Linked DNA regions of Homo sapiens. The protein of the gene in region 6 interacts with the protein of the main gene of each other region in a pairwise test. Each region holds a gene or a part of one and is shown on either strand. Other genes may lie near its edges.

What was found.
Region 1: the proteins of BTK (region 6) and PLAU interact in a two-hybrid assay, tested with the Homo sapiens proteins (one large-scale study listed by BioGRID and IntAct).
Region 2: the proteins of BTK (region 6) and TLR4 interact in a two-hybrid assay, tested with the Homo sapiens proteins (one study listed by BioGRID).
Region 3: the proteins of BTK (region 6) and ARID3A interact in binary tests that used the Homo sapiens proteins (3 or more experiments, as listed by UniProt).
Region 4: the proteins of BTK (region 6) and ARRB1 interact in a two-hybrid assay, tested with the Homo sapiens proteins (one large-scale study listed by BioGRID and IntAct).
Region 5: the proteins of BTK (region 6) and MRPS22 interact in a two-hybrid assay, tested with the Homo sapiens proteins (one large-scale study listed by BioGRID and IntAct).
Region 7: the proteins of BTK (region 6) and TLR6 interact in a two-hybrid assay, tested with the Homo sapiens proteins (one study listed by BioGRID).

The regions. Positions count from the first base shown.
Region 1 is NC_000010.11:73,913,634-73,918,214, forward strand, and holds the end of PLAU (urokinase-type plasminogen activator isoform 1 preproprotein), read left to right. Parts: coding exon 1-125; intron 126-346; coding exon 347-495; intron 496-1,142; coding exon 1,143-1,283; intron 1,284-1,617; coding exon 1,618-1,766; intron 1,767-1,937; exon of another isoform or gene 1,938-1,988; intron 1,989-2,755; coding exon 2,756-2,932; 3' UTR 2,933-3,861; downstream 3,862-4,581. UniProt on the Homo sapiens protein: Specifically cleaves the zymogen plasminogen to form the active enzyme plasmin.
Region 2 is NC_000009.12:117,713,903-117,718,120, reverse strand, and holds part of TLR4 (toll-like receptor 4 isoform A precursor), read right to left. Parts: coding exon 3,473-4,218; 3' UTR 1-3,472.
Region 3 is NC_000019.10:928,742-932,959, reverse strand, and holds part of ARID3A (AT-rich interactive domain-containing protein 3A), read right to left. Parts: intron 3,947-4,218; exon of another isoform or gene 3,815-3,946; intron 3,699-3,814; 5' UTR 3,432-3,698; coding exon 3,064-3,431; intron 543-3,063; coding exon 218-542; intron 1-217. UniProt on the Homo sapiens protein: Transcription factor which may be involved in the control of cell cycle progression by the RB1/E2F1 pathway and in B-cell differentiation.
Region 4 is NC_000011.10:75,271,337-75,275,554, forward strand, and holds part of ARRB1 (beta-arrestin-1), read right to left. Parts: intron 2,876-4,218; coding exon 2,738-2,875; intron 1,643-2,737; coding exon 1,559-1,642; intron 389-1,558; coding exon 365-388; intron 1-364. UniProt on the Homo sapiens protein: Functions in regulating agonist-mediated G-protein coupled receptor (GPCR) signaling by mediating both receptor desensitization and resensitization processes.
Region 5 is NC_000003.12:139,353,751-139,358,078, reverse strand, and holds the end of MRPS22 (small ribosomal subunit protein mS22), read right to left. Parts: intron 2,398-4,328; coding exon 2,289-2,397; intron 1,161-2,288; coding exon 1,065-1,160; 3' UTR 950-1,064; downstream 1-949. Other genes in the region: COPB2 (coatomer subunit beta'), read left to right, coding at 121-216.
Region 6 is NC_000023.11:101,358,692-101,362,347, forward strand, and holds part of BTK (tyrosine-protein kinase BTK), read right to left. Parts: intron 3,550-3,656; coding exon 3,482-3,549; intron 2,065-3,481; coding exon 1,877-2,064; intron 1,460-1,876; coding exon 1,397-1,459; intron 657-1,396; coding exon 602-656; intron 6-601; coding exon 1-5. UniProt on the Homo sapiens protein: Non-receptor tyrosine kinase indispensable for B lymphocyte development, differentiation and signaling. Binding of antigen to the B-cell antigen receptor (BCR) triggers signaling that ultimately leads to B-cell activation.
Region 7 is NC_000004.12:38,828,825-38,833,042, reverse strand, and holds part of TLR6 (toll-like receptor 6 precursor), read left to right. Parts: intron 1-3,505; 5' UTR 3,506-3,569; coding exon 3,570-4,218. UniProt on the Homo sapiens protein: Participates in the innate immune response to Gram-positive bacteria and fungi. Specifically recognizes diacylated and, to a lesser extent, triacylated lipopeptides.

The DNA.
Region 1 (4,581 bases), on a different chromosome or scaffold from region 6:
ACCATCGAGAACCAGCCCTGGTTTGCGGCCATCTACAGGAGGCACCGGGGGGGCTCTGTCACCTACGTGTGTGGAGGCAGCCTCATCAGCCCTTGCTGGGTGATCAGCGCCACACACTGCTTCATGTACGGCCCTGGGTTTCTCCTCTTCGACTCTTCTGCCCCACCCCAAGCACATCCCTTTCTCCTTCCCAGCAAAGTGTTCCGCCTCATTTCTCCCTCATCTGCCCCTGTCCATGCAGCCCATGGCCTTGGGGACAAGTCGTGCTTTGAGGCCTCTAGGGAGGGAAGGAAGAAGTGGCAGATTTCATGGGACTAAGCTGTTTGATGGGTATCTTCTCCCACAGTGATTACCCAAAGAAGGAGGACTACATCGTCTACCTGGGTCGCTCAAGGCTTAACTCCAACACGCAAGGGGAGATGAAGTTTGAGGTGGAAAACCTCATCCTACACAAGGACTACAGCGCTGACACGCTTGCTCACCACAACGACATTGGTGAGGGGGAACCCCGCGACTACTGTGGCCATAATGGCTTGGGGAGAGTGGGACCCAGGGAGAGACTGGAGCTGAGGTTGAAGCTGCCCGGTGGGGCAGGGGTGGGGCGAGGGACCTTGAAGCCTCGATATACATGACAAAGGGAGTGGCAGGGAAGAGTTCCATGAAGTCTGAGGGGCCTGGTGCTCCTCTGGAGAGACCCTGAATTTCCCCAACAAGTAGCCTCTTGCGAGTGGAAACAGCCCTGTGGGTATATGGCTTGGGCTGGGAAGGCCCTGTTTATATGAATTAGAAAAAGACACACCTTCCTTTGTGGGATGCAGCCTCTGTCTGTGCTAGGATATAGAACTTGGAGAATGGAGCCTTGGGATGGATTCCAGCCTAACTACCTCAGCTGGGAGTTTTTGCAGAAACGACCTGTACAGCTGTATGCAGTGGCTCTGGCCATCCAAGCCTTTTTCAACACCTGGAACAAAGCCCTTGGGGCATGGGGCAGGGGAGGTTTCCAGGTGATAAGCGACCAGCAGACCTCCCTGGATGACTGACCTAGGGATAGGCATAGCTACTTCCTCGGCACTTGGAGGGGACAGATGGGGACCGCCTAACCAGTAGTGATCTTTCTCCTCTGACCCTCTGTCCTCCCCCAGCCTTGCTGAAGATCCGTTCCAAGGAGGGCAGGTGTGCGCAGCCATCCCGGACTATACAGACCATCTGCCTGCCCTCGATGTATAACGATCCCCAGTTTGGCACAAGCTGTGAGATCACTGGCTTTGGAAAAGAGAATTCTAGTAAGTGACAATTGCGACTGACTTAGAAGGTCCTGAGGAGTGTTTTGACCTGAAAATGAGCCCAGCGTGATCAAGGGAAGACTGCAGAGTTAGAGGTGGGAGCACTGAGGCGGTGGCAGATGGGTCCAGGGATGGATGAAGAGTGTTGTTTAGGGAGCGATGGGCTGCAAAGGTAAATAGATGGTAGGGGCTATAGGTGGAGTAAAGGCTCAGATTTGCATGGAAGAGAATAAGGGCCTTCCCTGGTAGAGATACTTTATGGTTCCCCTCTCTGGCAGACTCCCAGTGGACAGATAAATCTTGATGCAAACGCCTCCCTGTTTTCTCCACCTAGCCGACTATCTCTATCCGGAGCAGCTGAAAATGACTGTTGTGAAGCTGATTTCCCACCGGGAGTGTCAGCAGCCCCACTACTACGGCTCTGAAGTCACCACCAAAATGCTGTGTGCTGCTGACCCACAGTGGAAAACAGATTCCTGCCAGGTGAGTGTTCCAAGCATCTCTCTCCACCTCTTCCATATCTCCCCAGAGCTCCTGGGCTTGTTCCAGCCAGCTTAAGGGTGTCTCTCTCTAGCCAAAGCCCTAAGTAGCCAGAATCAGGAGCTCAGGTCTTTGAGGGTTTAAACCAGTCCTTATGTGTTTGCCAGACATTACCAAAAAAATCCCAGCTCTGCGCTAGTCACTTCAGACTGGGGGCACGAGATCCTAGAAAGAGGAAACAGTAAAAGACAATGTAACTCAGTGCCCAGGGTGTGTTGTGAACTATAAATGATCAGGTGTTCAGGAGAGGGAGGTGAGTGCCAACCTGAGGGTCAGGGAGGGGAGGCTTTAAAGGAAATGTGACTTGATAGGCATTTGAAGAGGCAGAGGGAAGAAAGGAAGGTGTTTCAGTTGAAAGATACAAAACTGAGAAGGAGGCTGGCATATTCCGGGTGGGGAGGAGAACTAGGGTCTGGGAGTGTGGATGGAATAGTGGCAGATGACAGGGCTTTTAAAGCCAAGCAGGGGATTTTAAACTTGATGTGGTAGAAAATGGGGCTGCGTCAGGCACAGTGGCTCATGCCTGTAATCCCAGCACTTTGGGAGGCCGAGGTGGATGGATCACTTGAGGCCAGGAGTTTGAGACCGGCCTGGCCAACATGGTGAAACCCTGTGTCTACTAAAAATGCAAAAAAAAATTAGCCAGGTGTGGTGGTGCCTGCCTGTAATCCCAGCTAATCAGGAGGCTGAGACATGGGAATCGCTTGAGCACAGGAGGCAAGTTTGCAGTGAGCTGAGATCACGTCATTGCACGCCAGCCTGGGCGACAGAGCGAGATTCTGTCCTCCCCCCGAAAAAAAGAAAGAAAATGGGAAGTCGCTAAGGACTTTGACTGGGAAACTCTTCCCTCTCTCTGGTATGGTTGGGTGATGGGATCAGAAATCCCCTCCTCACTTCTCTAGGGCTCATCTTTTGTATCTTTGGCGTCACAGGGAGACTCAGGGGGACCCCTCGTCTGTTCCCTCCAAGGCCGCATGACTTTGACTGGAATTGTGAGCTGGGGCCGTGGATGTGCCCTGAAGGACAAGCCAGGCGTCTACACGAGAGTCTCACACTTCTTACCCTGGATCCGCAGTCACACCAAGGAAGAGAATGGCCTGGCCCTCTGAGGGTCCCCAGGGAGGAAACGGGCACCACCCGCTTTCTTGCTGGTTGTCATTTTTGCAGTAGAGTCATCTCCATCAGCTGTAAGAAGAGACTGGGAAGATAGGCTCTGCACAGATGGATTTGCCTGTGCCACCCACCAGGGCGAACGACAATAGCTTTACCCTCAGGCATAGGCCTGGGTGCTGGCTGCCCAGACCCCTCTGGCCAGGATGGAGGGGTGGTCCTGACTCAACATGTTACTGACCAGCAACTTGTCTTTTTCTGGACTGAAGCCTGCAGGAGTTAAAAAGGGCAGGGCATCTCCTGTGCATGGGTGAAGGGAGAGCCAGCTCCCCCGACGGTGGGCATTTGTGAGGCCCATGGTTGAGAAATGAATAATTTCCCAATTAGGAAGTGTAACAGCTGAGGTCTCTTGAGGGAGCTTAGCCAATGTGGGAGCAGCGGTTTGGGGAGCAGAGACACTAACGACTTCAGGGCAGGGCTCTGATATTCCATGAATGTATCAGGAAATATATATGTGTGTGTATGTTTGCACACTTGTGTGTGGGCTGTGAGTGTAAGTGTGAGTAAGAGCTGGTGTCTGATTGTTAAGTCTAAATATTTCCTTAAACTGTGTGGACTGTGATGCCACACAGAGTGGTCTTTCTGGAGAGGTTATAGGTCACTCCTGGGGCCTCTTGGGTCCCCCACGTGACAGTGCCTGGGAATGTATTATTCTGCAGCATGACCTGTGACCAGCACTGTCTCAGTTTCACTTTCACATAGATGTCCCTTTCTTGGCCAGTTATCCCTTCCTTTTAGCCTAGTTCATCCAATCCTCACTGGGTGGGGTGAGGACCACTCCTGTACACTGAATATTTATATTTCACTATTTTTATTTATATTTTTGTAATTTTAAATAAAAGTGATCAATAAAATGTGATTTTTCTGATGACAAATCTCCCTGGTGCTTGTATGGGAAGGAGTTGGAGTACATAAAAAGGAGAAAATAACAAAGGTGGACTGCACCCTAGAGTTTCTTATGGGACTGCATCTCTGGACTTAATGGAGCTTTGGGAGGTAGAGGTTAGGAGAGCTGTAGGGCAGGGCCACCACAGCACTTAATGTATACAAAGTTTCCCCAAACCACAATCCCATGGCTGTGTAAGTAGTGTACAGGCTTAGTGTCAGCTCCCAATTGCCTCCTTAACCTGATGCCTTTGTGCAGTGCACATCTTGTACAGCTGTACATGGTGGTCTTCTTTAGGGTTAACTCCACAACAGTCTCTTCACTCTGCCCCCAACAATCCTTGAGCTGACCTCAACCAAGAAGAACACCTGTGGCCAGGTGTAGTGGCTCATGCCTGTAATCCTAACATTTTGAGAGGCTGAGGTGGGAGAATCGCTTGAGCCCAGGAGTTTGAGACCAGCCTGGGAAACTTAGTGAGACCCTGTCTCTGCAAAAAATAAAAAAATTAGCCAGGTGTGGTAGCACATGTCTGTAGTCCTAGCTACTTGGGAGGCTGAGGCAGGAGGATCCTAAGCCAAGGAGTTCAAGTTTACAGTCAGCTGATTGTGCCACTGCACTCCAGCCTAGGTGACAGAGCAAGACCCTGTCTCAAAAAAAAAAAAAAAAAAAAAAGAAGAAGAAGACCTGTAAGTGAAAATTGCT
Region 2 (4,218 bases), on a different chromosome or scaffold from region 6:
GGAAAAAGTTAATTATGATTTGCTACCTTACTCAGCTAATGAGATATTCAAATATATAGTTTTGTGAATATGTTTCAAGTTGTAAGGTATCACACAAATTTAAGGCATTACAATTGGCATTAATTTATCCTTATTCCACCCTTTATCCCTCTTAAATCCAGAGGATTTAAAGAGCTAAAAAGAGGCTGGCTGAGGCCTGACTTTACTCTTTCTTCTCCTTCTGTTCTATGCATATAATTTCTTTCCCTGCTTGTCCACCTCACCTGCCATTTCTAGAATTTCCATCTGGGAGAGGGAACTGATAGGAAGGAGGCCAATGTCAGCCTTGAATATTTCGGCCTTGAAATATTCCAAGTTGTATGTTGATCTTCCTTCTCAGAGCCTTGTACATTTGCTTGAATAAACACACTTATGCAGAATTCATATTCAAATATGAATAGAACCACACTTACATGTAGCACGGATATACACAAAATCATACATTTTCAAGCATACTAAGAAACTGAGGCATACATCTGTAGATAAACAATCATGTATGTATGTTAGTTCCTCACTTATCCACAGTTTCACTTTCCCAGGTTTCATGGTCAGTTATGGTCTGAAAATAGGTGAGTACAGTACAGTAAGATATTTTGAGAGAGAGAAAGAAAGAGATCACATTCACATAACTTTTATTACAATATATTATTATAACTATTCAATTTTATTGTTAGTTATTGTTAATCTCTTACTGTGCCTAATTCAGAAGATGAACTTTATCTTAGGTATTTATGTATAGGAAAAAATATTGCATATATGAGGTTTGGTACCATCTGCGGTCTCAGAGATCCACTTGGGGTCTAAGAACGTATCCACCAAGCATAAGGGATAAGGGGAGACTACTGTACAAGCACAAGAGTAGAGAACTCATCTCAAACAGCCATAGACATCCATTTCAAATGGATGTATTCTTCAAGAAATATAATCACACTCTCTTCTATACAGATATGATCATGCGGACACACACACTTTCAAATACACACAGCCCTGATAGGGATACATAGGGATATGTGCACAAATGCACACATCTACTTTCACTAGTACATGAGACATGGAAACACACCCAGGGATGTTCAATCACCCTAGACCTGCTCAAACCAAACACACTCTGAAACACTCAGTAACAAACACTTCTGACTGTGGTCATATTTCCAGTTTTGACAACTGAATTTTGTTGTCTTTTCTTTTTTATAGCTTCATTCAGACATAATTGATATTATAAAACTGCATATATTTAATGTATACAATTTGATGAGTTTAGACATAGTCACATACCTGTCAAACCATCACCACAATCAAGGTAATAAATATATCCATCACCTCCAAAAGCTTCCTTGTGTATATGTATATGGTAAGAACACTTAACATGAGAGGTACCCTCTTAACAAAATGTTAAGTGCATAATACAGTATTGTTCATTATACGAACTCTGCTATACAGCTGATCTTTAGAGCTAATTCATCTTGCATACTATAATTTTATACCAATTAGACAACTCCCTATTTCCTCATTTCTCCCTTCCTCCTTTTCCCTAGGAACCACTGTTCTATTCTCTGCTTCTATGAGTTTGACTATTTTAGAACCTCATATAAATGAAATCAGGCAGTATTTGTCTTTCTGTTACTTGCTCATTTTACATAGCATAATGGCCTCCGGGTTTATTCATGTTGTCATAAATAACAGGATTCCCCCTTTTTTTAGGCTGAATAATATCCCATTGTACGTATATGCACATTTTCTTTGTCCATTTATTTTTCAATGGAAATTTGGGTTGTTTCCATAACTTTGGAAACAGTGATTGTGAAGAGTGCCACAATGAACATGGGAGTGTAAATATTTTCTTGAAATTCTGATTTCAATTATTTTGGGTATATATACAGAAGTGAGATTGCTGGATCATATAGCAGTTCTATTTTTAATTTTTGAGAAACCTCCGTACTGTTTTTCATAACGGCTACACCATTTTCCATTCCCTCCAGCAGTGAAGAAGGGTTCCAATTTCTCTATATCCTTGATGACACTTCATTTTTTTATAGTAGCCATTCTACCTGGTATAAGGTGATATCTCATTGTGGTTTTTATTTTCATTTCCCTGATGACATCCTGATTGTCCTTTTCTTGAATGTTCTGTTTCTGAGGAGGCTGGATGAACATTCTTTTCTGGGAACCTTCTTTATAAGAACCCCATTAATTCCAGACACATTGTTTTCTCAATGATAACATCCACTCTTCCCAAAATGTGGTCAAGGAGCATTGCCCAACAGGAAACAGCAATGTATACTCCCTGCCTTGAATACCTTCACACGTAGTTCTCCTGGCAGTGAGAAGGGTACAGGGGAGGGATCCCAGCCATCTGTGTCTCCCTAAAGAGATTCAGAGGTCCATCAAACATCACTTGTTCTGAAAAAAATAAACTTCTGCTGCAACTCATTTCATGAGGTCACCCCGGGTTTATCAGCCCATATGTTTCTGGAATCAAGAAAAGGTGACCTCCTGAGGTCATCCCACTTCCTTCCTGCCTCTAGCCCAAATTGTCCATGATAAGACCAGGAAGCGGAAATTTTCTTCCCGTTTAAAAGAGTGCCCCCTTTAAACAAATTATTTCAATGCTGCTTTCATGACAGTCATTACTTAGTAGGCAATAACTTTGGAATGACATCGAGTGACAAAGTGACAGAGTGTACTTTTCCATACTTCCTTGAAAAATAGTGGTTAATATGGATATTTGAAGCACGTCTTAAACAACCTTATTTATGATATTAGCTTATAGGCAAGACGTAAAAAAATGAAAACTGGATATATAAAAATAAAAATATATCAGGGGTGATTAGTTAAAAAATAGAACATGCTCGAGAATGACCAGGATGGTTGTGAGCATGTGTTAATCAGGTTTCCTTAGGAATTAGCCACTAGACTTTAACCTCTGTAAGGAGACAGACTTAAAATGGAAGGGGCATCTTGCATCAGGAGCCCCTTGACGACTGCAGTCATCAAGTAGAATTTAAATTGTATTCAATCAAAAAGGAAAAAGTGAACACCCAGTTCAGTCAAAACTACCAAAATGGTTTTATGATGGCTATAACATAATACAATTTCCATTCAAAAGACTCAGGAAAAGAACAATGTCTCTTTCTGTTTTCTCTGTCTTTATTCAACTTGATGAGGTAAGAGTTGAAATGACTTTCTTTGTCATGGGTTCCTTGACTGAGTTGGTTGAAATGCCCACCTGGAAGACTCTGTATTTTAGTCTAGCATTTATTCCCTCTGCACTGGAAGCTCCTTGAGATTAGCAGCCCTGCATATCTAGTGCACCATGGAATTACTCACCCTTAGCATAAGGCCTGACATGTGGCAGCATTTAATACTTATTAACTGAACAAGTGTTGGACCCAGCTGGGCAAGAAATGCCTCAGGAGGTTTTTATTTTTCCTCTTCAGATAGATGTTGCTTCCTGCCAATTGCATCCTGTACCCACTGTTCCTTCTGGATTCCATGATTTACCATCCAGCAGGGCTTTTCTGAGTCGTCTCCAGAAGATGTGCCGCCCCAGGACACTGTCCTCCCACTCCAGGTAAGTGTTCCTGCTGAGAAGGCGGTACAGCTCCACCTGCTGCCTGAGCAGGGTCTTCTCCACCTTCTGCAGGACAATGAAGATGATACCAGCACGACTGCTCAGAAACTGCCAGGTCTGAGCAATCTCATATTCAAAGATACACCAGCGGCTCTGGATGAAGTGCTGGGACACCACAACAATCACCTTTCGGCTTTTATGGAAACCTTCATGGATGATGTTGGCAGCAATGGCCACACCGGGAATAAAGTCTCTGTAGTGAAGGCAGAGCTGAAATGGAGGCACCCCTTCTTCTAAATTCTTTACTAGCTCATTCCTTACCCAGTCCTCATCCTGGCTTGAGTAGATAACAAAGGCATCATAGATGTTTTCACCTCTACCATACTTTATGCAGCCAGCAAGAAGCATCAGGTGAAAATAGAACTTATAGACCAGAACTGCTACAACAGATACTACAAGCACACTGAGGACCGACACACCAATGATGGTCTTATTCATCTGACAGGTGATATTCAAACTCAGCACAGGCATGCCCTGCTTATCTGAAGGTGTTGCACATTCCATTCGTTCAACTTCCACCAAGAGCTGCCTCTGGTCCTTGATCCATT
Region 3 (4,218 bases), on a different chromosome or scaffold from region 6:
CGGGTGCTCCTCACACATCCCACATCAGAGCAATGAACAGCCAGCTGGTCGAGCCCACGCCCAGGAGGGAAGCACAGGAAGCACAGCTACCGCAGGAACCCCCAGCTCTCAACTCGACGCCCGGCTCAGCACACACCCCGTGCAACGTGGGCCTTCAAAGGGCCCCACTGGCCCAGGAGCAGGTGCCTCAGCCGCCACGCGGGACGCGCCCACTCACCTGCTTAAACTGCTCCTCGTAAGTCCAGTCGCCGTGGTCAGGCGGCTGCAGCTGCGGGGCTACGTGGGCGGCCCCTCCGGGGTGGGCAGGGCCAGGCCCCGGCCGCTCCTGGCCCCCCAGCACCCTGGGAACGCCATCGCCGCGGAAGGCCTGGGGTGGCTGGGCCTTTCGGGGGAACAGTGCCGTGGTGCCCAAGCTGGCAGGGCCTGGGGGGCCCAGCCCCTCCTCGTCCTCCTCCTCCTCCTCATCCTCGTAATCCTCCTCCTCCTCCTCCTCATCCTCCCCGAGGTCTTCCTCCATCTCCTCCTCCTCCCATTTGGGCTTCCTGGGGTGAGCAGAGGGCAGGAGTCAGGGGAGAAGGTGCTGGCTCGTCCCAGCCCAAGGAAAGACCCACTCCCCGCCCAGCCTCAGTTTCCCTCTCTGGAAATAGGAAGAGCCGGCCGCCGCCAGCTCAGACTGCAGAGAGCGCTCATGAGCACAGCGTGGGGCACCCGTGACGCCCACTTTGTTTCCAATTAGCCCAGAACAGCACAAGCCGTCCCTACAGCGTGAATTTTGGGGCCTTGAAAAGCATCACGCAGGCAGCCACGGTGGCGCACACCTATAATCCCGGCAGCACTCTGGGAGGCCAAGGCGGGAGGATCCCTTGAGCCCAGGAGATGGAGGCTGTAGTGAGCTATGATGGCACCACTGCACTCCAGCCTGGGCCACAGAGCAAGACTCTCTTGGGAAAAAAAAAAAGGGAATCATTACGGCAGGCTGGTTCCTGCATCCTGCACCATGCATGCTGTCCCAGCTCCACCTCCCCTTCCCTCCACAGGGAGAATTCTCCCACCGCCATCTGAAATCCGCCCCACCCTCGCCACTGCCCCTCCACGGCACCCTCCTAGACTTTCTTGGCAGCCGTTTTTTTTTTTTTGTCTTTTTTTTGAGAGGGAGTCTCGCTCTGTCGTCCAGGCTGGAGTGCAACGGCGCAATCTCGGCTCACTGCAAGCTCCGCCTCCCGGGTTCATGCCATTCTCCTGCCTCAGCCTCCCAAGTAGCTGGGACTACAGGCGCCCGCCACCACGCCTGGCTAATTTTTTTGTATTTTTAGTGGAGACGGGGTTTCACCGTGTGAGCCAGGATGGTCTCGATCTCCTGACCTCGTGATCCGCCCACCTCGGCCTCCCAAAGTGCTGGGATTACAGGCGTGAGCCACCACGCCCAGCCATTGGCAGCTGTTTGTACAACCTGATATCACCTGCTTCTTTGCTGCTAGGTTTTGTTTGGTTGTTTTTTTTTTTTTTTTGAGACACAGTCTCACTTTGTTGCCCAGGCTGGAGTGCAAAGGCACGATCTCGGCTCACTGCAACCTCTGCCTCCCAGGTTCAAGCGATTCTCCTCCTCAGCCTCCTGAGTAGCTGGGATTACAGGCATGAGCCACTGCACCCGGCCAGTTTTGTTTTTTGAGACAGGGTCTTCTCTGTTGCCCAGGCTGGAGTGCAGTGGTGTGATCACAGCTCAGTGCAGTCTTGACCTCCTGAGCTCAAGCAGTCCTTCCGCCTCGGCCTCTCGAGTAGCTGGGACCACAGATGCATGCCACAACACCCGACTAATTTTTGTACTTTTTGTAGAAATGGGGCCTCACTAGGTTGCCCAGGCTGGTCTTGAACTCCTGGGCTCAAGCAATCCTCCCACCTCGGCCTCCCAAAGTGCTGGGATTACAGGCGTGAGCCACTGCGCCCAGCATCTTTGCTTGCTCAGGTCCTCCCAGGAAGATGCGGGTTCCTGGAGGCCAGGATCCCACAGCAAGTGAGCCCTCAGCCAGCCCTGGGGGGACCCACACGCTATGCAGGTCCAGCCGGCTGCAGATTTTATCTGCCCCTGCCGCTGAATCTGCTGTAGCCATCGGTGGCTAGGTTGCTTTAAGTTAACTAAGATGAAACAAAGTTGGCCGGGTGTGGTGGCTCACGCCTGTAATCCCAGCACTTTGGGAGGCCAAGGCAGGCAGATCATGAGGTCAGGAGATCGAGACCATCTTGGCTAACATGGTGAAACCCCGTCTCTACTAAAAATACAAAAAGTTAGCCAGGCGTGGTGGCGGGCGCCTGTAGTCCCAACTACTCGGGAGGCTGAGGCAGGAGAATGGTGTGAACCCGGGAGGAGGAGGTTGCAGTGAGCTGAGATCACGCCACTGCACTCCAGCCTGGGCGAAAAGAGCAAGACTCTGTCTAAAAAAAAAAAAAAAACCCACATTCTTGGCTCACTGCAATCTTCACCTCCCAGGTTCAAGCCATTCTCCTGCCTCAGCCTCCCGAGTAGCTGGGTTTACAGGCTTCTGCCACCACGCCTGGCTAATTTTTGTATTTTTAGTAGAGATGGGGTTTCGCCATGTTGGCCGGGCTGGTCTTGAGCTCCTGACCTCAGGTGATCCACCCACCTCGACCTCCCAAAGTGCTGGGATTACGGGCGTAAGCCACAGCACCCGGCTAAAAAAACCATTTTTCTTTTGAGACTGGGTCTATCTCTGTCATCCAGGCTGGAGTGCAGTGGCACAATCACAACTCAACTTCTGTTCTCAAGGGATCCTCCTGCCTCAGCCTCCCCAGTAGCTGGGACCACAGGTGCACCACCATGCCTGGCTAATTTTTTAATTTTTTGCGGAGATGGGGTCTTGCTATGTTGCCCAGGCTGGTCTCCAACCCCTGGGCCCACGTGATCCTCCCACGTCGGCCTCTCAAACTGCTGGAATTACAGGAAGGAGATCCCGCGACCTGACCCTTACTCCCATTCTGCAGATGAGCAGAGTGACACTCAGAGCCAGTAACAGCCCCCAGAAGGCCCTGCCCCAGACCCCAACTCACATGTCCTCGTCGGAGGCCATGTCCTCAAAGTGCTCCTCTCCTGGCCCTTCTCTGCCTCGCCCGGGTGAGCCCGGTGTCCCCTCCCGGGCCGCGTCCTCCTCCTCCGAGCCTGGGGGCCCATCCTCAGAGCCGCCGGGGCTGGCTGGGTGTCCCAGGCCCGCAGCTGCAGCCCGCATGGCTGCCAGTGCGGCCATCTGAGCCCGCTGCATCCGGGCACTCTCGGGCTCTCTGTCCTCGTCGGGGGCAGCCCGGGCCCGGCCGGGGGGTGCAGCAGGGGGATCGGGGGGCAGCTGCTGCCGGGCCTCCAGCTCCTGGCGCGCCCGCTGCTGCCGCTGCAACAGCGTCTCCATCACGGCCTGTAGTTTCATGGCCCTGCGGCCCGGGCCACCACCACCACCACCACCACCACCACCACGGGCGCTAGGGGTGGGCGGCGGGGGCGGCCCCTGCGGGGAGGGGGCCCGGCCGCACTGCAGCGTGGGGGCCGCGGGGGAGCCGGGGCAGTGCAGGGTGGCAGGGGGCGGGGGCGGGGGCCGCCGGGCTCAAGCTGAAGGCTGATGGGGCATGCCTCTTCCTCACGCTGGGCTCCAGGGGACAGAGGCTGGCATCCGGCTCATTCACGCATTTGCAGAAACCTGAGGGGGAAAAAAGGCACAGTCAGAGCAGGCCTGAGCTCCTCAAGCCCCCTCCTTCCTTCCCCATGAAGGCCCTGGGGATCAGCTCTCATGTCCATCTCATGCAGGATGCAGACCTGGAGGCCTTCTTGGAGGCAGAGGCGCAGGCTCTTCGCATACAGCCTACTGTGGGCCTGGGTAGCAAGGTCGCCCCGCACGGGGCCACAGAGAAACACGCTGTGGCCAGACTGTCTGCCCCAGGAGATCTTGGATTATTGCTTCACAAGCAGGGTGGGGGAATGGGCGTTCCTGGCCTGTGATTGGCCAGCGGGCTCCGGGCCCCAGTCAGGTGGGTTCTAAGTTCCAGTCGCTGCCTGAGTCCCTGTTGGAGCGGCCCAGCCTGGCCTCCAGGTATCTAGGTATCCTCCCATCTCAGGCCAGACTGGAGATTGAGCGCCTGTTGTATACGGGCCCTGGGCTAACCCTCCCCCCATCACACAACTCAACAGCAACGCCCAAGCCACAACTTCTCTGGACCTCA
Region 4 (4,218 bases), on a different chromosome or scaffold from region 6:
ACTTGGCCAGCAGTTCCCTCCTCACTAGTGTAGAAGTTTGAAAGCCATGAAGTCTGCATTTCTCCAAAAGCTCCTATAATTCAGGTGATCAGTAATTCAGACAGCTCTCTTGGGGGCCACTCCCTGTATCAGTGTAATCAGGCTTTGCTCTCTGTAAAGATCCCTGTCACTCAGGTGGGATGGAAGAGCAAGGTGAGGTTTGTTAAGGAGAAATTGTGTCTCCCAGCTCACACCTGAACCTGGCTATCTGAAATGACCACTAAGATTCCTTCCAACCCAGTGCCCTGTGATTCTGGTCAGTCAAGCCAATGGGCTCCAGGCCCTCCAGGAAGGTGGGTGAACCAGGTGGAAGGGAGGAATTTACCTGGATGCAAGATCTCCCAACAGGCTGGGTGGGTCAGAGGAGGCAGGAGAAGTGGTCAGGAGAGAGTTCAGAGAGGAAGAAAACAAAAAGCACATTCATTCACCACTTCTGCTGTCCCCCGGATAGAGAAGACCCACGGGACACACTCCCACCCACCCCCCTGCACAGCCCTGACTGCTCTTTCAGGGATACACCGAAATGGCATTAGCCCTGCCCCGAGGGACTGGGATCCAGACCCAGCTCAGCAAACCCCTGAGCCCCAGGATCCTCATCTGTCAAGGCAGTGTAAAAATTAACCCCAGTGCTGCCTGTCCCAAGGGAGGCCGGACTATCTAAAGGCAGAGGGAAGGACTCCGGGGTTGCCAAGAATGTTTGAGGGACTGTGGGTCCTGAAAGGTCACCAGACACAGGATTTGGGATTTGTAATTTTGAGATGTCCTATTATATAAGGTCAGGATTACATACTGCCACCTGCCAAGAGGCATTCTTCTAATAATCAAGGAGACCCAATGTCTAATGGGATTTAGCTTTTCAATCTTTTCATAGAAATTTATGAATTAAGTTACAAAAAAGAAACACAGTAGTTTGTTTGTTTGTTTTTCTCCCTGAGCTTCCACCAAACTATGCTCCAGGGCAGGGCAGTCTGGTCCACCACTATGACCTGAGTTAGGAGAGGAGATTTCAGGCAATGTTTGGGGCACTGTCTGGGCCTCTGTTTCACCATCTGTAAAATGGGAAAGCTGACTAGCAAATCCCCAATCCAGCTCTGGGTTCTGAGCCCTTTTAGCTGTTTCCTCAGAAAATCAGCTTGGGCATGCATGGGGGTGGGTGCTATGCCCAAAGTGTGATAAGGAGATGGCACCCCTGGGGACCCCACAGCAAAGACTCTGAGGACGCCGTCCCCTGGGCATGGCCAATCCTCAGTGCGAGCCCAGACCTAGGATAGAGGAGGAGGAGAGAGAGAAAGAGATGGGTGGGGGTAAGAGAGGGGCTGAGGGCCAAGGAAGGAAGAGAGGGAAAGCGGGCGGGGGAGAAAGAGGAACAGAAGGGAGGAAAAGAAGGGACAGGAGGTTCCTCCTCCAAGGTGGATGCAGCTAAAAGGGCTGCAAACAGGCAGAATGGGGCAGGGGCCTGTGGGCACCTGGGACGCTCCCCTCTGCACTCCGGGGTCTTGGGCTTGGCTGGAGCACTCACCCGCCCCGAGACACCACCAGCTTCACTTTCACTTTGTAGGAAACAATGATCCCCAGGATCTCACGGTTGGCACCTTCCCTCAACCTGCAAAGTGACACAGGGGAGCCAGTTCAGGGGCCTTGCCAGGTGGGCGAGACACCTCAGGGGTGGGTATGCTGGGGGGCAGTGGCCGTCCATCCCCCATCTGGCTAGCCACTCAGCTACCATGTCCAATAGAGCCCAGTGGAGATGAGGAAGGCGAGCAGTGCCCTTAGGTAGCAGGGACCCAGAGCCCCGGTTCCAAGTCTGACTGTGAGACTCGCTCACTGTGTGGCCCTGCTGAGCCCCTCTCCCTGCCCAGGCCAGCGTCCCCGCCATGAGGGCCAGGCTCCTCCTCCCCTCAGATGGATTCTGCTTCTCTCAGCAACCCATGGGCAGAAAGGGCCACACGGGGAGTTCACAGAGGGCGAGGCAGCTGGGGTGGGGTGGGGTGGGGGCCATCAGAGAAGGACTTCTCCGCAGAGGTGGTGCTTCAGCTGGGTCTTGAAGATGGGTAGGGTGTGAGCCAGGGTGGAGACAGGGCAAAAAGCTTCAGGTAAGTGGGAGGCTGTGCAGGGGCTGCTGAAGAGAGCTGAGTCTGTGCTGGGAGTGGCGGCTGCTCTAGACGTAGGCCAAAGCCCCACTGAAGGACCACACTGGCAAGAGGGCAAGATGGCATCCCCATAGCCAGGGCTCTGCTGGAGCAGAGTAGCCTAGAGGCGTCCACGATGACTGTGCAGCAGGAGTGACCAGATGCCCTGGGACCCCTGACTTGGAGGGGCACCCCATGTTGGGTCTAACCCAGCTCACCACCCTGGTCTCTCCTCAGGGACACCCCATCTGACTGAAGGCATTACGTCAGAAGCTGCCACCTCTTGCAGGAAGCCTTCCCAGGTTGCCCTCCCCCAGGCATGGTAGCAGAGCCCAGCACTGCCTGAGTGAGCTGGCCTAGTGGTCCATCTTATTCTCTCAGTCACCCCTGGGTAGGGTTGGGAGTAAGGAGGCAGCTTCCCTGACAAGTCAAGCACCTGAGGACAGGCCCTGACAAGGCTATGGAGAGGGTAGCCTGAGCCTTGTCTTTGAACTGGGGGGACCAAGGAGGGTGTGGCCCCATCAGGCAAGATGCACTAGGAGCCCAGGGCTAGGAGGGCAGGTCCTCACAGGGTGCTAGAGGCCAAGTTCGTGTCTTCGTGCTTGAGCTTCCCGTCCAAGGCGAGGCCCCGCTTCTCTCGGTTATTGGCTAGGAAGGGGGTCAGTGTGTAGACCTTGCAGAACGTCGAGCTGGGTGCCACAGTGTCACTGGGAAGAAAGGAAGCAGCTGTGGAGATGGCCCTCCCCAGAGCCAACCCCAGCCCTGATCTCCAGCCCAGCAGAATATCTAGTCTGAGCCTGCTCCAAGTCTCCCTCTCCCAACCTCTGTCCCCCAGACACACGGACCACTTGGGCCAGCCCAGCTCGGGCAAGGAGACCACTGCCACTCAAAAGAGGCACATCTACATTCTACGCACAAACAGGACTGAATCTCGGATATTCTAAAAGATTATCCTAGTCAAGCAGCACAGTGCTAAAAAGCACATTTATTTAAAGAATTACAGCCAGCCGGGTGCAGTGGCTCACGCCTGTAATCCCAGCATTTTGGGAGGCCGAGGCGGGTAGATCACGAGGTCAGGAGTTGGAGACCATCCTGGCTAACAAGGTGAAACCCCGTCTCTACTAAAAATACAAAAAAATTAGCCGGGCATGGTGGTGGACGCCTGTAGTTCCAGCTACTCAGGAGGCTGAGCCAGGAGAATGGCATGAACCTGGGAGGTGGAGCTTACAGTGAGCCGAGATTGCTCCACTGCACTCCAGCCTGGGTGACAGAGCAAGACTCCATCTCAAAAAAAAAAAAAAAAAAAGTACAGCCACAGCAGGCACAGTTGCTCATGCCTGTAATCCCAGCAACTTGAGAGGCTGACAGGAGGATTGCTTGAGGCTAGGAGTTTGAGACCAGCCTGGGCAACATAGCAAGACCCCATCGCTACAAAAAATTTTAAACATTAGCCTGATATGGTGGTGCACACCTGTAGTCCTAGCTACTTGGGAGGCTGAGGCAGGAGGATCACTTGAGCCCAGGAGTTCGAGGCTGGCTGTAGTGAGCCATGATCATACCACTGCACTCCAGCCTGGGCAACAGAGTGAAACTCTGTCTCTAAACAAATTTAATTTAAATTTATTTTATTTTATTTTATTTTATTTTATTTTATTTTTTTGAGACAGAGTCTTGCTCTGTCGCCCAGGCTAGAGTACAGTAGTGCGATCCTGGCTCACTGGAACCTCCACCTCCCAGGTTGAAGCAGTTCTCCTACCTCAGCCTCCCAAGTAGCTGGGATCACAGGGGCGCGCCACCATGCCCGACTAATTTTTGTATTTTTAGTAGAGATGAGGTTTTGCCATGTTGGCCAGGATGGTCTCAAACTCCTGACCTCAAGTGATCTGCCTGCCTCAGCCTCCCCAAGTGCTGGGATTATAGGCGTGAGCACCAGCCCTGTCTCTAAACACATTTTAAAAAGAAAAAATTATAGCTACACATAAACCATAAATGAAGCTATTTGGGCACCCATATACCCACCATCTAGGCTCAACAATTAAAACTTTACTTG
Region 5 (4,328 bases), on a different chromosome or scaffold from region 6:
GGAAGATGCTCTTTTTGACTATTAAGAAAATCTTAGTTCTCACTTTGAATCATGAACCCACGGATAACTTTCCTTTAACAGTACTGTAAAACTTAATTACCCTCTTCCTTTTGTCTGCAGAGTTTACTCGAACTAGAAGTAGATTTGGATAATTTGGAATTAGAAGATATTGACACAACAGATATCAATCTGGATGAAGATATTTTGGATGATTGACTGTAATGCTTTCCATTTACCTGACTAAACAGATCATTATTATATATAGGTATTGATTGCTACCCTGACCACAGTGCTTTGGACTATGAGAAACTTCTTAGATTTTTATATGTAAATGCTGTGGACCACTGGGAGCACAATGCCCACATCATCTTAAGAAGAGTTTATGTGCAGCATTTAAATCACTGTGTTTTCCTTGTTAACTAAAACAGACATGGGCTTTGATTTTTTTCATACTATTAGACCATATCTCATAAAACCTTTTGAATTAATGAAGGTACTTGTTTCCTTTCTCAATAATGAAAATAGGCTTCTAGTTTTAGAAGGCTGAGCCGAAACTACACCTTGCCTAGGGATCAGCCCCACTGTCTTTTCTTTGTATAACTAAATCTGCATTTTCAAATGTTGTCAATCACATTTTTCTTAGAGCTGAATATCCAGGCTGTAATTCTCTAAACCCTTTTTCTTGACCTCATTGCATCATTCCACAGGTCTTGCCCCGATTTTGTCTAGCAGCTACCCATTTCTGGAGTCAGGATGTGAAACCTCTGTTCCTCTGACCTCATTAAGCTGGGGGTCTGTCTAAGTTAACGTTTGCCCTATTTGGTAACACAAAAACACACCAGACTTTTTAACCGTACGCTCATCTAACATGATTTGAGAAATTCATAACCAGGCACTCAAATATCCTTGTAGCCTACGAAAAGTGAGTAGGGTAATAATTTTTGCTTTGTAGGGAGAACTACAAATTGATATCTTTTAATCTGGCCATTTTTTAACATTTAGCTCAATATTAACAGAGAAATGTAGTCAGTATTTAGTAAAATAAATGTATTTTTAAAATATTTTTAGGAAGCTGCAGAATGGCGACTGAGTGCTTCTTGATAAGTCTGCAGTGTTAGTTCTATATAGGCTCCCTTCTGTGCTTCTGTTTTTGCAAAGACCTGTTTAAATTAAAAAGAAAATTTTAAAACAATAGGACATATGCTATTTATAAAGTTTTTCAGTTTTAAGACATCATTAGCATTTCTGTAGTAGCAAAGAGTCCTACTTAAAAAGGGCTTTCAGATTTCACAATTTTTCCCCCGATTATACAATAATTAATAAACACACATGGACAGAAAAACAATACCCAACACATTTCAAGCAATACTAATTCTAAACACCAGAAGTATCCAATTAAGACCCTGACATTGTATTAATATTAATACTTCCTTCGAGATCAAAACAAAAACCATTAGGTTAGAGAGAAATCTGGAGGCTAAGAGTTACCAAACTAACTTTTGACTTTAAAGAATATTTTCTCCAAAAACATTGCGCTTTATCAGGTTCATAAAGAAAATCAGTACTGTAGTTTCTCTCTACTCTTCCTAGGATGTCATCACAGGTCATTGTTTCCTTAGCTTTGCAGCATGCAAACAGTATTACTAGGATAGAAGCCAGTTCCACAAAACCATGTATATTCTGAGCATTAGAAGAGATGAAATTAATTATACAATCTCCTCCCCTTCCCTTCCTGAAAATATCATCTCAACTCTCAGCACTTACAGATAAATGTACATAAGCCCATGGTTTTGAGAGGTATGCAGCTCCAAAATGACAATACAGCTAAGGCTTGATGATATACAAGCATCACACTCTCCACTTCTTGACACATGCCCATTTCCCCCGATGTGATGTGACCACACAAAGACAGGAAGCTGCTCTGGGGGACATGTGCTACTTAGTCCTCTACCCTGTCCTGTTGGTGGCTTGAACACCTCAGATGCAGCTCAGCCCTTCCAGTGCTCCAAAGAACAAAGGGGCTGCTCCCTGCACTGTCAGAACTTCTCTGGACTCCAGCTGCTAGCACCACATCACTCAACCTACTTTACTGCACTTTACCCCCCTCCCCTGTCTGTTTCTATTGTCCAGGCTGAAGAAATATGGGGACAAATCATACTGATGTTTTCAAGACCACAGATGTCCCATATTCACAAATCTGTTTAGTTACCATTAATTATGACCCAATTCTGAATTTTTCCCAGCTCAATTACCACCACAAAACAACCAATATGAAAAAAAAACTTTACCTTGATTAAATTTATTCCCTCAGCAGCCTGATCCTTGGCCCCTTGAGCCGACTGGCCATCTGGATGGAGCACGTGATACAGCTGGACCAAGTTGGTTGCATCATCGATTCTGAGAATGAAAGGGTTTAATGTTATCTAGGGGTTTTCTTCATTTGATTCACAGTCCTATAAAAGTGTGTGCCAACTTCAAACTAAATTACATTTCAGACTTTCCTCAGGCTGGAGGGATTGGGGAAGGACCTTCAGTTTTACAGTTTCAAAAGCATTTTCAGGAAAATTGACTAATTTAGGCCTCACACCAACTCCGTGAGGCAGCTAGGGCAGGAGTCACTGCAGGAAGTGTCCAATTTATGAAAGTGAATATATTCCAAATGTGGCTATATTCTTTTTGGAAAAAGAGCACCATTTCTCACAGAAACAGCATTCCTAATGGTAGACAATTTCCAGGCCAGCTTACTTCACCAGCATGTAATAGTCTAATCCAACTCAGAGGACAGAAACACAGCTTCATCCCACATAAGCAGGAGGGTGGTGGTCACAGGGATCTCAAAGTCACTTGCCTCTAAGTGACATTTGCTAACAGACAAATGCCTCTACAAGAGGCCCCCTAAGATTCCAAGGAAAGGATTCACAGGAACGCATTAGTAAAATAGCATCCTAGTGAAGCAAATTTGAAATTATACACACACATCAGACAAAAAGGAAAATCGGGTTCTACATCAGCAATCTGTCTTAACTTCAGCATCACACAACTACCTATGAAGAAGACAGAACAAGAATTCAGTTCTTCTGGTCTGTACTTCTCAGAAATGTATAAACAATTTTTATCAACATTAAAACTGTCCTAGCAAAACCAAACAATCACTATCTTTTCACACAGCTGACACTTTCCCACCATTTGCCATCTCATCGCTGGAGGGCACAGAAAAACGACACTCAAAATGCTTGTGCTTTTGAGGCTCTGCTATATACACTAAGTGAACTACTGGCTTCCAGTTGGGAATGGAGGGCTGAGGACACCCTAATTCAGTGCTTCCGCAGCTAGCACTCTTCAGCCTTCCCTGCGTTCCCCTTACCTGAGCTGGGGGATGAAGAGCAGGGTGACAGTGGGAGTAAGTACAGAATTCCTCAAGCCTTGGTAGCCTTAGAGAAATGCTCTGGGCTTATACTGAGGCTCATCTACCCTAAAGGCCATCTCTCAGGAAAACAGAGCTGTTGTATCATAAAGCTTTTCAGGGGGAAAAAAATAAAAAATGTTCATCACAAATCTATTGTGCTTGTTATAATCTAACAAAGTCCACTAAATGTAGTAACGAAATGTCTCCCCAATAAAAAATTAAGATTCCCTTTGGAGCTTAGGCATGTGGCCTTATAAAGAGCTTAACTGGACTGCTACCTGTTGGTATGTTCAGGGCTTCATTAGGTTCATGCTTAAGTATAATGCCTGTGCCTCACAGAACAATTTAAATTTAGCTTAACACCCCACCCATACTTAAAGAGCAAATAAATTATATTTCGAAAAGATTTTAAAATAATCTCAATATAAAAACCAACAGTGGGAACTGAGTCTGGAATAAATGTGTGCAGAATCCTAATTCTTTTCTGAGCTCCACTCAGTGAGGATATGCACCCTCTACTGTCCAGCCTGTGGTTTGCAGTAAGCTCACTCTTCTGTTCAGAATGACCACAGGAGGGCCTTTACCTAGGAATAGCAGGAAAAGCTAAGTAAGTACTCAAACTTCCCTCCCAGTAAGCATGAATTGCTTCAGATGTAAAGCTTACATGTGATGAGTAATACTATAATATCATACATTAATATATCCTAATAAACTTTAATTTTCAAACATTTCTGCGTTGCTCTAATTTTTTGTAAGAACATACTGTTTTAATAATAAAGCAATTTCAGAATGATTAAACTCAAGAAACTTTATAAGTGGAAAATTCATTCACAGGAGATAACGTACATAAAGACAAGTCACTTGAGCATCCCCATCAACACCAGCCCCCAATTATGGGGTATGAAGGTATATTTCTGCCCTC
Region 6 (3,656 bases):
TTCCCCTGAAACAACGAAAAAGAAGCTGTCTGTAGGAGGAAGTGGTGCTCACACCTGCATCCCACCTGCCCAAACTTGAGAGAGAAAATAGAACAACCCCTGATTTTACTGCCAAGTTCCACGCTTGAGCTACAGCCTCATTGCTTTTAATATTAAAAGGTGCAGGCCGGGCATGGTGGCTCATGCCTGTAATCCCAGCATTTTGGGAGGCCGAGGTGGGCGGATCACCTGAGGTCAGGAGTTCGAGACCAGCCTGGCCAACATGGTGAAACCCCGTCTCTGCTAAAAATACAAAAATTAGTCGGGCGTGGTGGCATGTGCCTGTAATCCCAGCTACTTGGGAGGCTGAGGTAGGAGAATTACTTGAACCCAGAAGGCGGAGGTTGCAGTGAGCCCAGATCACGCCACTGCACTCCAGCCTGGGTGACAGACCGAGAGTCCGTCTCAGAAAAACAAAAACAAAAAAAATGGTGTAATTGGGATCCCAGACGATGGCAGCTTTGACACTGCCTTGCCCAAAGGTAGGGGGCAGAACAGGCCCTCAGTTCAAGATCCTCACTTATGCAAGGAGAATGCTGTGTGCTAGTGGTTCCACACTTACCTCTTGCTTTAGCAGTTGCTCAGCCTGACTCCGAGTCATGTGTTTGGAATACCACCTGTGAAGGGAGAGTGCTGCTTGAGTGGCTCCTGGTCATAAGCAGATTGGAGGTTACAGCACCCTCCAGGGCTTGTCCATGTCAGTGATTCAGTCAACTCACTCAAACCCTATTTACTGAGCATCTGTCATGTGCATAGCACACTGTATCCCTTTCCCAAACCCAGGTTGGCATTGAAGATTCATGGAAATGGAGAGTAGCAGGCAAAGGCAAGCAGCAGGGAGTTGCAGGGAAGAGATCAGGGACTAGGGCACTTGAGAACAATCCACTTCCATGATTAGGGAGGAAAGGACAACAGTAGCAGTTTGACATTTTAATTCTTTCATCAGGTCGTCAACTCCTTTTTCTTTGAGTGTGATTCTTCTGGATTTGAGGGCATGGTGACCTCTCCAGCTCTCATAAATGGAGGGTGTTTGGGGGGTAAAGGTAAGACAGATACACTAATTTGAGGTGGTGGCATCATTTGATTCAGATGGTACTAATTTTAATATATATCTTGAAATAAAAAATATGTTGAAAGTAGAAAAAAGTGTATATATATATATACACACTTGTGTATGTATACATAATATACCTATATATACACCAGTGTATGTATACATATGTATACATATATACACTTGTGTGTGTTATATATATATATAAATATATATAAAATATATATAAATAAATAAATATATATATATATAGAGAGAGAGAGTTCCTCCTGGAAGATTGTGGACTGACATAAACATACTTACTCATACATTTCTATGGAGTCTTCTGCTTCAGTGACATAGTTACTAGGAATGTAGCCTTCCTGCCTGTGAAGGAAACAATGTGGCAGTTCATCCAGCACCTCCCCAGCCTCCAGGAGACAGATTCATATGCCCACGTCCCTGAGCTCAGAACAAATCTCAAATGGAGGTATATGTATCATGCACCTCCCTCAAAGACAATCATGTCTCTGATGCATGGTTAGGCAGTGAGCCAGTGAGGTGCAGAGCTTATGCACATGTTGCATTGGTTATATGTGCCCAACAACAGAGGCTCAGAGATGTGGCAGAGGCCATGTATAGGGAGCTGCACGCTGGGAAGTACTTGGAGGGAGAGCATGTTCAGTCTGGTGTGGGAAGAACAGTCTCTGATGAGGATGCTGATCACGGGAATTATGCCGCAGCACTTTTTGCGTGTAGGGAGTGGGCAGGCACCAGGCTCAGGAAGGGCTGGTGTGGACTCACCCATTTTTATCTCGTGCTCTCCACCATGGTAAGTTGCTTTCCTCCAAGATAAAATATTCATCACCCTTCCGCAGCTGTAGATCATTTGCATTCATTGGCATGTAATCATAAAGGGCCACAACCTTTTTCAGCTCACTTGTGGAGACTGGTGCTGCTGCTGGCTCAGGCGGTAGTGGCTTTTTCAAGATCTATGTAGTTAGGAGAAAAGGTAGGAGGGTTTGTCAAGATACCAAGCACTCTTCTCTTCTCTCCCAACTCTCTGGCTTACTCAAGACACCCAAATCAGGCATACTAAAATATTACTCAGCAGTCATTCAACAACCATTTTTAAGCACCAGTGCAGGAGTTCTCAGCCTTGCACACATATAAAGACCATGTATGGAACTTTTAAATTCCAATGTACTTTCGGAGGCCAAGGCGGGCGGATCAGTTGAGGCCAGGAGTTCGAGACCAGCCTGGCCAACGTGACGAAACCCCATCTCTACTAAAAATGCAAAAATCAGCTGGGCATGGTAGTGTGTGCATATAGCCCCAGCTACTCAGGAGGCTGAGGCAGGAGAATAACTTGACCCCAGGAGGCGGAGGTTGTAGTGAGCCAAGACCACGCCACTGCACTCCAGCCTGGGTGACAGAGTGAGACTGTCTCAAAAAAAAACCCACAAAAAACAAAAAACCAATTCCAATACCTAGTCAGTTTCCTCACAGACCAATTACATCAAAATCAAACTCTCAGGAATGGGACCCAAACATTACTATTTTTAAAGCTCACTAGACAAAAACCATTTATAGCTAAGGTCAGGAAACCGGCTTGGCACTAAACTTGTACGTGAATCTACTAAGTGGCTCAGAACCTTGGTTTCCTTCTTTGTAAAATGAGTATAATAATACCTGCTCTACTTACTTACAATATGTGAGAAAGGGCTTTCTAGCCCTCAAGAAGGAACCAAAAAAAAAAAAAAAACTTCTGAAGTGTTAGTGATAGGTGGTGTTAGTGCTAAGTGTTGAGTATGTTGGTATTAAGTGTTAAATTCTTCTAACTTTACTGTATGTTTGAAAATACTTTCCAGCTGGGCACGGTGGCTCACGCCTGTAATCCCAGCACTTTAGGAGGCCGAGGCGGGTTCGAGACCAGCCTGAACAACATGGTGACACCCCCATCTCTACTAAAAATACAAAAATTAGCTGGGCGTGGTGGTGCATGCCTGTAATCCCAGCTACTCAGGAGGCTGAGACAGGAGAATCACTTGAATCTGGGAGGCGGAGGTTGCAGTGAGCCGAGATCATGCCATTACACTCGAACCTGGGCGACAGAGCGAGACTCCGTCTCAAAACAAAAACAAAAGCAAAAACAAAACAACAACAAAAACTTTACATTAAAAAAATCAGGTTTTGTTCTAAACAGGTGATTGGATTACATGGTTGCTGAGAGCCTTCTATCTTTCCATCGAGGAGGAAATCCTAATTAGAAGAACAAATCCCCCATCTTAGCAAGAATACCAATTAACACTGCCAAGTCCCAGGGTAATTCTAAGACTCTAGTGTGTTCTTAGGGCTTGACTATAAGTTTCCATTTAAGCAGTGGCAGCACCCAGTTTCCCTGTATACCTGGTCCTCCTCAGGCGTTGGGGGAAGAGGCTTTTTTGTCTTCCGGTGAGAACTCCCAGGTTTTAAGCCTGCAAAACAAGAAGCCAGTGATGATATGGAATGCACTTTAGGAAAGGGGCCAAGGACAGGTTTGGTCAGGGACTTTGCCGTCCATATTGAGTGCCTTTAGGCAAGT
Region 7 (4,218 bases), on a different chromosome or scaffold from region 6:
CACACCCTGTGTGGCACTGCCCTGCCATGGCAGTGGCAGGCAGGCACTAGCAGCAAAGGGCATGGTGGACCTGTCCTCAGGCCCCTTGGAGGCATGTGTAGATGTGTCGTAGTCCTGCTGCTAGGGAAGATGGGGTTGCTGTAAGTGGCGGTGGCCCTGGGCAGGTAACTCTGAGGCTCTGGGGAATGCACACTTTGACTCCCTTTGTCCCAGGGAAAGCCACTAGGTGCACTGTGCTTCCTGTTTCCTGGGATGCGGGGCATTGCATGGGCTAGAGTGCTGGGGACCTAGCTGCACTGCTGATCTTAGCTGGCATTACAATGCTGTAGCCCTCTAGGTGGACGTAGGAGAATATCAGTGGGGCTTCAGGGGTGTGGAGATTCAGGGTTGTTGGGCCCCAGAACAGGATGTGTATGGTGAGGGCTGGGCTCTTAAAAGAGCCTTATGCTGAAGCTGTTTGGGTCTCAGGGTATGGGGTATGTGGGACCCAATGTGAAGTCCCATTGTGGAACAATGTGATTGCATATATTCCAGACAGCCCCAGGGCATGTGAAGGCCAAGGAGCTAGCTCATGGCTAGGATTACAGGAGTCCATAGTGGAAACATTGACCTCTGAAGATCTCTCAGTTAAACTTTCCCTGGAATGGGAAGTTCCTCCTGGTTCTGAGCTAGTCCCAGCTGGGCTGGCTGCTTCACTTCCCTCTTCTCCCATGCCTCAGAGGTGCACTGTCACTTCTCCGCTGAATTCCAGTGTTCTCTCTTAGATGCTCATTCAATGTGTGATTATCTGCTCACTGTTTTGGTCCTTCTTTGCAGAGGGGGTGAGGGCTAGGTGCCTCTATTCAGCCATTTTAATGCTTCTCCGGCTCATTTTTTAATTGTTCAATAGTATTTTATTGTGTGAATGTACCAGTTTGTTAATATTTTTATCTATTGAGGGATATCTTGTTGCTTCCAATGTTTGACAGTTATGAATAAAGCTTCTATAAACATCCACATGGAGGCTTTTATGTGGACATAAATTTTCAGTTCTTTTGGTTAAATACCCAGGAATGTGATTTGCTGGATTGTGTGATAAGACTATGCTTAGTTTTATAAGAAACTGCATTCCATAGTGGCTGCACCATTTTGCATTCCCACAAACAGTGAAAGAGAGTTCTTGTTGCTCCACATCCTCACCAACATTTGATGTTGTTTTTGGATTTTACCCATTCTCATAAGTGTAATGTAATTTCATTGCTGTATTAATCTGCAAAACCATGATGAAATATGATGTCAAATAGCTATGTATATGTGTATTTGCTCTTTACATATCTTCTTTGGTGAGGTGTCTGTTTAGATTTTTGTGCCCATTTAAAAACTAGGTTGTTTGTTTTCTTATTGTGGAGCTTAAGAGTTCTTTGCATAGTTTGGATACAAGTCCCTATCATATATGGGTTTTGCAAATATCTTCTCTGAGTCTGTGGTTTGTCTTTTTCACTCTCTTGCAGTGTCTTTTGCAAAGCAAAAATTTTAATTTTAATGAAGTCCAACTTAACAGTGTTTTCTTTCTTGGATTATGTTTTTGATGCGTATCTCAAAAGTCATCACCAAATCCAAAGTCACCTAGATTTTCTCCTATGTTATCTTCTGGAAATTTTATAGTTTTGCATTATACATTTAGGTCTATGGTTAATTTTGAGCTGATTTTTGTGAAAACTGTAAGGTCTGCGTCTAAATTCTTTCTCTTCTTCTTCTTTTTTTTTTTTTGCATGTGGAGGTCTAATTGTTCCAGCACCATTTGTTGAAAAGACTATCCATTCTCCACTGAGTTGCCTTTGCTCGTTTGTCAAACAGCAGTTGATTATTTTTTTGTGGGTCTATTTCTAAGCTCTGTATTCTGGTCATTTGACCTATTTGTCTATTCTTTCACCAAAACCACACTGCCTTGATTGCTGTAGCTTTGTAGCAAGTCTCAATGTTAGGTGGTGTCAGTTATCTGGCTTTGTTCTTTTAATTTCTTTTTTTTTTTTTTCCTGTGAATGAACAATACTTTCTGTTTCTTTGCATGGCTAATTTTTTTAAACAAATAAATTAGAGATTCCTTTAATGCCAAGTTACACAATCAAAAAGATAACAATCTCTTTCCATTTGCTTTTTGCAAGGTTTGTGTTATTTCAGGGCAAAACGTAGAGCAAGTCCACTGGCAAATCTGGGGGCTAGTGATTATTTTGTTTTGATTTTTATTTTTTTAAATCAGACATTTTAAACACTACAATGAGGTAACTCTAGAAATCAAATTCTGTCCCCCTTTCCCAGAGGTGTTTTATTTATTTATTTATTTATTTTTTGACAGGGTCTCATTCTGTCACCCAGGCTGGAGTGCAGTGGTGTAATCACAGCTCATTGGAGCCTCGACTTCCTCGGCCCCAAACAATCCTCCCACTCAGCCTCCCAAGTAGCTGGGACTATAGGCACACGCCACCATGCCCAGCTAAGTTTTGTATTTTTTGTAGAGATGGAGTTTCACTATGTTGCGCAGGCTGGCTTTGAACTCCTGGACTCAAGCAATCCACCTGCCTTGCCCTCCCCAAGTTCTGGGACTATAGGCTTAAGCCACTGTGCCGGGCCTCCCTTTCCCAGGGTGTATTGTTGCTTCTTGTGGCTTATAGTTGCTTGTTTAATGACTTTTCTAAATAATTTTTATAAAGATTATTCTTTGTCATGTGTGGCTATTACATTTTCTGTCCAGTTAGCTTAGTGGTCAGCCAGTAACTTGAGATTTCTTTAAACATCTGGAGCAAAAACAAAAACCAAATAAACTAGCAAAAGCAAAAACAAAAACACCCCTGATCTTTGCAGGTTGGCTGTGTTGGATCACTTTCTCAATGCTTAGCCAGTCTATTCACAGCTCTGCTTTAGCCTTCACTTTCTGCATGCATGGAAGCTAAAGATGAGCCAGAGGTGAAGTTTAGGATTTTCTCAGGTCTCCTCTGAACATGCGTCCAGCCTTGGGCACGTGAGTGGACTTCTGGACTCCCTGGTATATACAGAGATTTCCTCAGCCTTTTTTCTCCCACATATCTTTCTCCATATATCTTTGCATATTTCCCAGACTTTTTGATGTGTCTGCTGCTTGCCCCCTCTGTTAGCCCTTGCTCAGGTGGCTGCAGCTAGTATGTTTGCCTTTAATTGTTTACAGCAAACACCAGCCAGAAGGCTGTTCCAGCCCTGAGAAAGTTCTAAGGTGTACAAAACAAAGGCAAGCCCCTGAGTGTGAATCCCTCAGGCAGCAACCAGACAGGTCAAAACACACAACCACAATTCTTTGATAACAAGGCCTATATTGCCCCTTCTGGCATGAGCAAGCTATATAACTGGTTATAAAAAGTATTACATTAAATTATGGGGACAGAAATGACTCTACTAGTGAATGAAGAAATCATTTAGATTTTATGGTTAGTAAGTGGAGGTTTGAGAGTAACCATCCGATCTTTATTAATCTTAGTGTATATTATATTTCTAGAATTTGGACTCATATCAAGATGCTCTGAAGAAGAACAACCCTTTAGGATAGCCACTGCAACATCATGACCAAAGACAAAGAACCTATTGTTAAAAGCTTCCATTTTGTTTGCCTTATGATCATAATAGTTGGAACCAGAATCCAGTTCTCCGACGGAAATGAATTTGCAGTAGACAAGTCAAAAAGAGGTCTTATTCATGTTCCAAAAGACCTACCGCTGAAAACCAAAGTCTTAGATATGTCTCAGAACTACATCGCTGAGCTTCAGGTCTCTGACATGAGCTTTCTATCAGAGTTGACAGTTTTGAGACTTTCCCATAACAGAATCCAGCTACTTGATTTAAGTGTTTTCAAGTTCAACCAGGATTTAGAATATTTGGATTTATCTCATAATCAGTTGCAAAAGATATCCTGCCATCCTATTGTGAGTTTCAGGCATTTAGATCTCTCATTCAATGATTTCAAGGCCCTGCCCATCTGTAAGGAATTTGGCAACTTATCACAACTGAATTTCTTGGGATTGAGTGCTATGAAGCTGCAAAAATTAGATTTGCTGCCAATTGCTCACTTGCATCTAAGTTATATCCTTCTGGATTTAAGAAATTATTATATAAAAGAAAATGAGACAGAAAGTCTACAAATTCTGAATGCAAAAACCCTTCACCTTGTTTTTCACCCAACTAGTTTATTCGCTATCCAAGTGAACATATCAG